2 linked regions of the Homo sapiens genome follow. The protein of the gene in region 1 purifies or fractionates together with the protein of each later gene. This does not show direct contact. Each region holds a gene or a part of one and is shown on either strand. Other genes may lie near its edges.

The links.
Region 2: the proteins of OPRD1 (region 1) and GJA4 purify together in Homo sapiens (affinity purification with western blotting, with the first as the bait; one study listed by BioGRID). This does not show direct contact.

Annotation. Positions count from the first base shown.
Region 1 is NC_000001.11:28,867,554-28,871,359, forward strand, and holds the end of OPRD1 (delta-type opioid receptor), read left to right. Parts: 3' UTR 1-3,714; downstream 3,715-3,806. UniProt on the Homo sapiens protein: G-protein coupled receptor that functions as a receptor for endogenous enkephalins and for a subset of other opioids.
Region 2 is NC_000001.11:34,791,455-34,795,835, forward strand, and holds GJA4 (gap junction alpha-4 protein), read left to right. Parts: upstream 1-1,544; 5' UTR 1,545-1,614; exon of another isoform or gene 1,615-1,892; intron 1,893-2,647; exon of another isoform or gene 2,648-2,742; 5' UTR 2,743-2,759; coding exon 2,760-3,761; 3' UTR 3,762-4,293; downstream 4,294-4,381. UniProt on the Homo sapiens protein: One gap junction consists of a cluster of closely packed pairs of transmembrane channels, the connexons, through which materials of low MW diffuse from one cell to a neighboring cell.

The sequences.
Region 1 (3,806 bases):
CTGGTCTTGAACTTCTGTCCTCAAGCAATTCTCCTGCCTTGGCCTCCCAAAGTACTGGGTTTACAGGTGTGAGCCACTGTGCCCAGCTCTCATACCTCGTCTTGATGCAGTAGAAGTAGTGGTTAAGCCTGGAATCAGATCTTGGTTTTCCCTCTCTGAGCCTCAGTTTCCTCATCTGTAGAGTAGACTTCCTTCACGGGTGGTTGTGAGGATTTAATGTATGTATAGGGATAAGGCCCAGAACGTAAGTAAACTCTAAGTACATGGTAAGTGGCAGTCACTGCTTACAAGTGGAGCCAGGGTTCAGGGTCAGAGCTAGAGACCTACAGGGAAGAGTAGGTGAGCTGTCGGGGCTAGTGATGGAGAGAGAGAAGAGACTGGAGATCCAGCTTGGGGATCCCCTTGCTTCCTGGCCCAGGAGCCACCATGGAGAGTGAGAAGCTGCCAGAGAAGCAGGAGGAGGATGGAGAGAATGTGCTACCATGGAAACTGGAGGAGGAGGGCGTTCCCAGGAGGAGGGAGTGATGGATAATGTCAAGTGTCATAAGAGAGGATGCGAGTAGGGAGGGCAGGAGGGTGATGGGAGCTCTCCAATTTAGTTTTTTACATGGCCCAGGCAGCCCCCAAGCCTGGATCAAATCCCAGCTCTCAAGCTAACTGGCTGTGTGACCTAGACAAGGGATTTGCCTTCTCTGAGCTTCAGTTTCCTTCTAGAGTTGAGATGTGGGAATTGGTCCATCTCTAATACGATCATCAGCCTCACTTAATAAGAGTCCTAGCTTTGCCGAATTCTTGGCCACGTGCTAGCAGTGTGATCTTAGGCAAGTCACTTCACCTCCACGAGAGCACTCTCTGAAAGCTAGAGATATGGTAAGCAAAGTGCCACCAAAGTGCCTGGCACATAGTGGGGCCTCGATACAGGCTTATTCTCTGATAATTACACGTGTGCCAGAGGCAGCTGCTCTAAGGAGGCTTGCTGGGCTTGGAATTAGAAATGCTCCTCAAGGGCTGGGTGCAGTGGCTCACGCCTGTAATCCTAGCACTTTGGGAGGCCAAGGCGGGTGGATCATGAGGTCAGGAGTTCAACACCAGCCTGACCAACATGGTGAAACCCTGTCTGTACTAAAAACACAAAAATTAGCCAGGCGTGGTGGCGTGCACCTGTAATCCCAGCTACTCAGGAGGCTGAGGCGGGAGAATCGCCTGAACCCAGGAAGCAGAGGTTACAGTGAGCCAAGATCTTGCCACTGTACTCCAGCCTGGGCGACAGAGCGAGACTCTGTCTGAAAAAAAAAAAAAATTAAAAAGAAATGCTCCTCAAGTTGGAGAGGGCCCACTAGCATCCTGAGAGGACTTGGAAGAACAACAGTCCAGGCTGGGCACCTGCTGGGTCTCTGTCCAAAGGCCAGCCCTCTCTTTGTGTCAGCCGCAGATCCCTCACCTAGGGCATGACTACTGGCTGCCAGCTCCCACTAACACCTGCTGCAGATCCAGACTGAAGCCGGCCCCAGCGGCCCCAAAGCCCCTAGGAAGTGACCACCCCCCATCCCTGGCACCCAGATCCTGGCCCCTGCACTCACACACAAAACACATACAGATGCCTCTCTTTCATCATGTATTTATTCCTTTATTTCTGGGAGCCGGGAGGAGTGACGGGAGCAAATCAGGACCTGGCCGCCCCACGCTGAGCTTGCAGATATTGAGAGTTGGGTGACAGATGGCTGTGTGGTTCAGGCTGCAGGCAGCTTGGGAATTCAAAATGGGGCTTAGAGAGGAGCTGGAGGGGGCCCTCGAGGTGGACGTAGTGATGCAGTAGGGCATGGCACTGCGAGGTTGCCCGGGTTCTAGTCCCAGCACCATCACCGGGGATGAGCCGTTTCAGAGTGTGGCACTCTGTCACACTCCATTTCATTGAGAGGCCACTGAGACATTATCAATGGGTAATGTACAGCACTTCCATGGCATAACTCATTTAATCTTCACAGCATGATGATGAGGTAGGCATAGTATCATTACCTCCATTTTACAGATGGGGAAACTGAGGCTCAGAGAAGGGAATGACTTGCCCAAGACCACATGGCTTCTCAGTGATTGGCTCAGCTAGGATCCCACCTTTGGTCCTTCAAGTCCACTTCCTCTGCTTTCCTCTTCCTGCACCCTGAGAGGAAATGCTCTGAGTATACCGAGGGTCCTCAGGAGACTCTCACATCCAGCTCACAGTCACAGGCTGAGCATTCCCTGTGCTGGGTTCTGTACCTCATCATGTTGGCAGCAGAGGCACGTGCCAGCTGCTCAAAAAACTGCTGTAACCTTGGTAGATCCCTCTCCCCATCCATTTCTTCCTTGCCTTGGAAGTCCTGCTTGTTTGATAATTTTCTGACTGACTGCCATGTTGTTGCCTTGTGACCTTGGGCATGTCATTTCACTCTGAGCCATTTCTCAGTCATGGATGACAGCACTTAGCTGATGAGAAGTTGAGAAGATTCAGAAAGAGGCTATGAGTGAAGGACCTTGTCTGTTTTGGTCATGAAAGTGTTCCCAGGAAATGCAAATGGACACACAGTAGTTATCTACTGAGCTAATGAACAATGTCCCTGGTGCATAGTAAGTGCCCAATAAAATGCAGCTTTTTTCATATTATCTAATGTTTTAGGCCATGCCTGCACCAACCCATGCTTCTTTTTTTTTTTCTTTCTTTCTTTCTTTTTTTTTTTTTAAGACAGAGTCTCACTCTGTCACCCAGGCTGAAGTGCAATGGCGAGATCTCGGCTCACTGCAACCTCCGCCGCCCGGGTTCAAGCAATTCTCCTGCCTCAGCCTGCTGAGTAGCTGGGATTACAGGCACGTGCCCGGCTAATTTTGTATTTTTAGTAGAGACGGGGTTTCGCCGTGTTGGCCAGGCTGGTCTCGAACTCCTGACCTCAACTGATCCACCCACCTCGGCCTCCCAAAGTGCTAGGATTACAGGCATGAGCCACCGTGCCCAGCCCAACCCATGGTTCTTAATGCTGCAGGTGGGTCCGGAGAAAGGCTTTTCTCTTTTAACCATCTCCTTGAATTTCAGAAGGTGGGACAACATGTGCTGGAAAGCAGTTCTTAAGAGGACATCTTTTCCCAAGCTCCTTAGCCTTAGCTGTCCTCTCCTGCCCTCACCAGGACTGCCCTCTCAGGGACCCAAGAGGAAGGGACAGCCTGGAAAGGAAGAAGGTCCCGGGCCATCTGCGTCATGGGGATGGAGTCCCTTGGCGTGTGCCGGTGCAAATACACTCCTGTAACGGGGCTCATCTAGAATCTCCTCTCGGAATGAGGAGACCGCAAATGTGGTTTTGAATCTTCATTGTCCACTTCATTGCTGTGGTGTTGGGCAGGTCTCTGTCCCTCTCTGGGCCTCTGCACGATGGAGGGGTAGGAGTTGATGGTTCTGAAGGCTCTGCCATCCTGGAAAAGAACTGAGACACTTCCCTCATGTTCCTGGGTCCCAGAAACAGACATCTGTTGGTAAAATCTACTGGGCATTTGCCCAGAGACAGGGAAAAGAATGCCTGGGGGTCTGTAATAGGAGCTGCCCCAATTAGGGGCAGGGAGGCGGGCATGTAAAAAAGGAAGCTTAAAGCTTTGTTTTCAGGCTTTTTGCCTACCCCAGGCTCCATCTTGGTACCAAGTACTCAACCTTCTGTTTTCTCAATAAAGTGAGCCCTCTTCTCGGTGTCTGCATCTCTGGCTGTTTTGTTTGCTTACCTCTGCCAGGTTCCCTTGTAAGGGGCCCCCAGTCTGGGGGATCACATAAGCCTATGGGGAAGTCTGGC
Region 2 (4,381 bases), 5.9 Mb from region 1:
GACAGAACCCTCAGGGACCCGGCCCTGGGGCCCAGGGAATCCAAGGACTAAATCTTGCTGTGGAGGAACAGGGACTTCTGTGCCACCAGCCCCAGGCCTCAACAGCCCCCTGCCACCTTCCCTTTCCTCAGCTGCGCCAGCCCCTACCACCCTCTAAGAACAACCCACAGACCCTTTTTGTTACAGTATCACAATGTTTTTAGCCACCACTCACTTGAAAAACTTTATGTACCACTATTACACTATGTGCTTTGATCACACTGTATGCCATCAACCCCACAAAGTAGATACTATCACTATTCTCATTCTGTAGAGGAAGAAATTGAGGCACAGGGATTTGAGTAACTTGCCTAAGGGTACAGGAGTCAACAGCAAAGTCTCAGCTCCTGGGCTCAGCCACCAACAACGTCTCAGCACTCCGAGGGCAGTGGCCACAGTCTCAGAACCCCACAGCTCCAGGCCCTCGAGCCACACTCATGCCGCCCCTCTACCTAGAATGCTCTTCCCTTCCACTTGGCTAATGGAGGGGGAAAAGCATTTCCTCTCCTCCAGGAAATGTTCCTAACCAAGTCCCCTGGGAATCACCCAGTACCTCTCAGGAGAACTTTCCACATTTATTATCTTACCGTTATCCAAGGGCTGATATGCTCAATCCCTGCACCAGCCAGTGAGGGAGGAGGCCAGAGACCAAGTTTGGCTGGTTCCTCAGGGTATCCCCAGGTCCCCAAGCAGCGTCTGCAGCACAGCAGATGCTCACTGATGCTCATCCACCTGTGATGCCTGAATGCATGAAGGCAGGCTCCGCATAGCCCTTTCATTCCTATGGATGTCCCCCACACCACCCAGCCACCATTTAGAGGCATAAGAACGGGGTCCAAGCTAAAGGTCAGGTGGTTCCCCCACCCCCAGTCTCAAGGAGTCCATGGGAATTGCTTAATGGCCTCTGATTGTGTAGCCTGCCCAGACATGGGGATGTTTGAGAATTCTGGAAGAACGTGGGCTGGGCGTGGATAGAGACGCCTGCTCCACCATGTATGCTGGAGGTGTGGATTACAACCCCTGTCCCCCATTGGAGCTTCCCGCGCCGTAATTAGCCTTGATCGCCTCATCCTGGCACACTAGGGCCAGCCACCTAGCAAATGAGTGGTCCCCACACTCCATCCCCATCCGCCCACCCCTCACAGCCCCGCAGGCCAGTTGCCCAGATCCACAGCCCTTACTGCAACCCCTTCAAATCCAGCCACCCTGAGAGATCCTGGCCTGGGAGAACTCTCCTTCCCTGGCCAAAGAAACGACAGGAGAGTTTACTGTCTGGAATACCTGGTGGAGAGAGAACAGAGGAGAGGAAGGGTAGGTCAGCCCCTCTTGCCCCTCCCCACCGCAAATCACACAGGCCCACCTCCCCGGAGTGGGTTTAGGGAGTCTGCACCTCCCAGTCCCCGCCCCCGCCCTCTCTCCAGCGCCCGCCGCCCTCCCCGTCGCGTTTCCTGCCCCCACCCCGCCCCTCTGCGCTATTTAAGGCGCCCCCGCCGCTCGTGCGGTCCAGCAGGGCTCCCGCGGGCGTCACTCCGGCCATCGTCCCCACCTCCACCTGGGCCGCCCGGCAGGCAGGCGGTGAGTCGGGGGCTAGGAAGGGACCAGGGGCGCCACCTGCTCGCGGGAGGCCGGGAGGAGTCTTGGGTCCTCCGATGCCGGGACGGGGGTTGCTGCGGAACGCCCGCCGCGACAGAGCCGCGCTCACCCAGGTGGCCTTGGCCAGGCTCCCACCCTCTTTCCATGGAATCCTTGTAACAACCCGAGGCGGGAGGAATACTATTGTTTCCACTCTATCGTGGAGGAGACTGAGGGGCCCAGAGGTTGTTCCTTATCCAAGGGGCCGCAGTTACTAAAAGGCAAGATTTGAACCCAGGGCCGCTTCCAGAGCCTGGCTCTAAACAGCTTTGCACTTGGGAAGAGGCACCTCCCCCTTGGGAACTTTGTGGCCTGTGCCTCACCCTGCAATGACAATTCCTTTCAAGAGTCTAGAATTTGCCAGCATCAGCTTTGGAGGTGGAAGGGGGTGGGAGTGGAGGTGGAGGAAGAAGACAGGACCAAATGTCCCTCCTCAAGTGGCAGGTGGTCATTATTGCTGACCGGTGGAGCTAAAGGATGATGCTGCCTTCAGCTCCTAAAACCCCTTCCACTACCCAGCCCCTGCAGGCTCAAAGATTAGAGTGAAGCCAGCTGGGTAAGATATGAGGCGGGGAGCAGGGACCTGAGGCTTTGAGCCCCCTAAGAAGCAGAAGATAACACCTCTACCATCATCACTAGCTCCCACTGTCTGGGGGTAGCCAGCCTTGGGCAAAAGGGAGGAAGGGCTTAGCCCAGCTGCACAACTTTGGATAAGTTCCTCAAATTCTGTTCCCATAGGCAAAGGAGCCTCAACTCCACCCAGATTTCCTTGGCCTGTGTCCATCCTGGGGCAGTGGCTCGGGGACAAGAGGGACATAGATGTCTGATTAGGCAGGGACCTTAGCCAAAGCAGAATGAGACCATACAAAGAGGTGGGCAGCCATCATCCAAAAATCTGGGTTGGGTCCTGCCTGCACTGCTGAGTGGGAGCCTCCAGGCCAGTCCTTCCCCTTCCTGAGCCTGGGTTTCTTTGTAGGTAGAACGGGCGTGGCAGACCTCCCTGCAGGCTTGTTGCTGGGCGAACGAGAAGGATGCCATGCTGACACACTGACGTGCTCTGTCTCCTTGCAGACGGAGGCCCGGGAGCCATGGGTGACTGGGGCTTCCTGGAGAAGTTGCTGGACCAGGTCCAGGAGCACTCGACCGTGGTGGGTAAGATCTGGCTGACGGTGCTCTTCATCTTCCGCATCCTCATCCTGGGCCTGGCCGGCGAGTCAGTGTGGGGTGACGAGCAATCAGATTTCGAGTGTAACACGGCCCAGCCAGGCTGCACCAACGTCTGCTATGACCAGGCCTTCCCCATCTCCCACATCCGCTACTGGGTGCTGCAGTTCCTCTTCGTCAGCACACCCACCCTGGTCTACCTGGGCCATGTCATTTACCTGTCTCGGCGAGAAGAGCGGCTGCGGCAGAAGGAGGGGGAGCTGCGGGCACTGCCGGCCAAGGACCCACAGGTGGAGCGGGCGCTGGCGGCCGTAGAGCGTCAGATGGCCAAGATCTCGGTGGCAGAAGATGGTCGCCTGCGCATCCGCGGAGCACTGATGGGCACCTATGTCGCCAGTGTGCTCTGCAAGAGTGTGCTAGAGGCAGGCTTCCTCTATGGCCAGTGGCGCCTGTACGGCTGGACCATGGAGCCCGTGTTTGTGTGCCAGCGAGCACCCTGCCCCTACCTCGTGGACTGCTTTGTCTCTCGCCCCACGGAGAAGACCATCTTCATCATCTTCATGTTGGTGGTTGGACTCATCTCCCTGGTGCTTAACCTGCTGGAGTTGGTGCACCTGCTGTGTCGCTGCCTCAGCCGGGGGATGAGGGCACGGCAAGGCCAAGACGCACCCCCGACCCAGGGCACCTCCTCAGACCCTTACACGGACCAGGTCTTCTTCTACCTCCCCGTGGGCCAGGGGCCCTCATCCCCACCATGCCCCACCTACAATGGGCTCTCATCCAGTGAGCAGAACTGGGCCAACCTGACCACAGAGGAGAGGCTGGCGTCTTCCAGGCCCCCTCTCTTCCTGGACCCACCCCCTCAGAATGGCCAAAAACCCCCAAGTCGTCCCAGCAGCTCTGCTTCTAAGAAGCAGTATGTATAGAGGCCTGTGGCTTATGTCACCCAACAGAGGGGTCCTGAGAAGTCTGGCTGCCTGGGATGCCCCCTGCCCCCTCCTGGAAGGCTCTGCAGAGATGACTGGGCTGGGGAAGCAGGTGCTTGCTGGCCATGGAGCCTCATTGCAAGTTGTTCTTGAACACCTGAGGCCTTCCTGGTGCCCACCAGGCACTACGGCTTCCTCTCCAGAATGTGGCTTTGCCTGAGCACAGACAGAGTCAGCATGGAATGCTCTTGGCCAAGGGTACTGGGGGCCCTCTGGCCTTTTGCAGCTGATCCAGAGGAACCCAGAGCCAACTTACCCCAACCTCACCCTATGGAACAGTCACCTGTGCGCAGGTTGTCCTCAAACCCTCTCCTCACAGGAAAAGGCGGATTGAGGCTGCTGGGTCAGCCTTGATCGCACAGACAGAGCTTGTGCCGGATTTGGCCCTGTCAAGGGGACTGGTGCCTTGTTTTCATCACTCCTTCCTAGTTCTACTGTTCAAGCTTCTGAAATAAACAGGACTTGATCACAAGTAGGTGTGTATTGATGCTATCATGATGTGCTGGGGGTTGGGGGATAGAGTTATTTTGCCCAGGCTTCCTTTACTTCTTGGTCCTGTA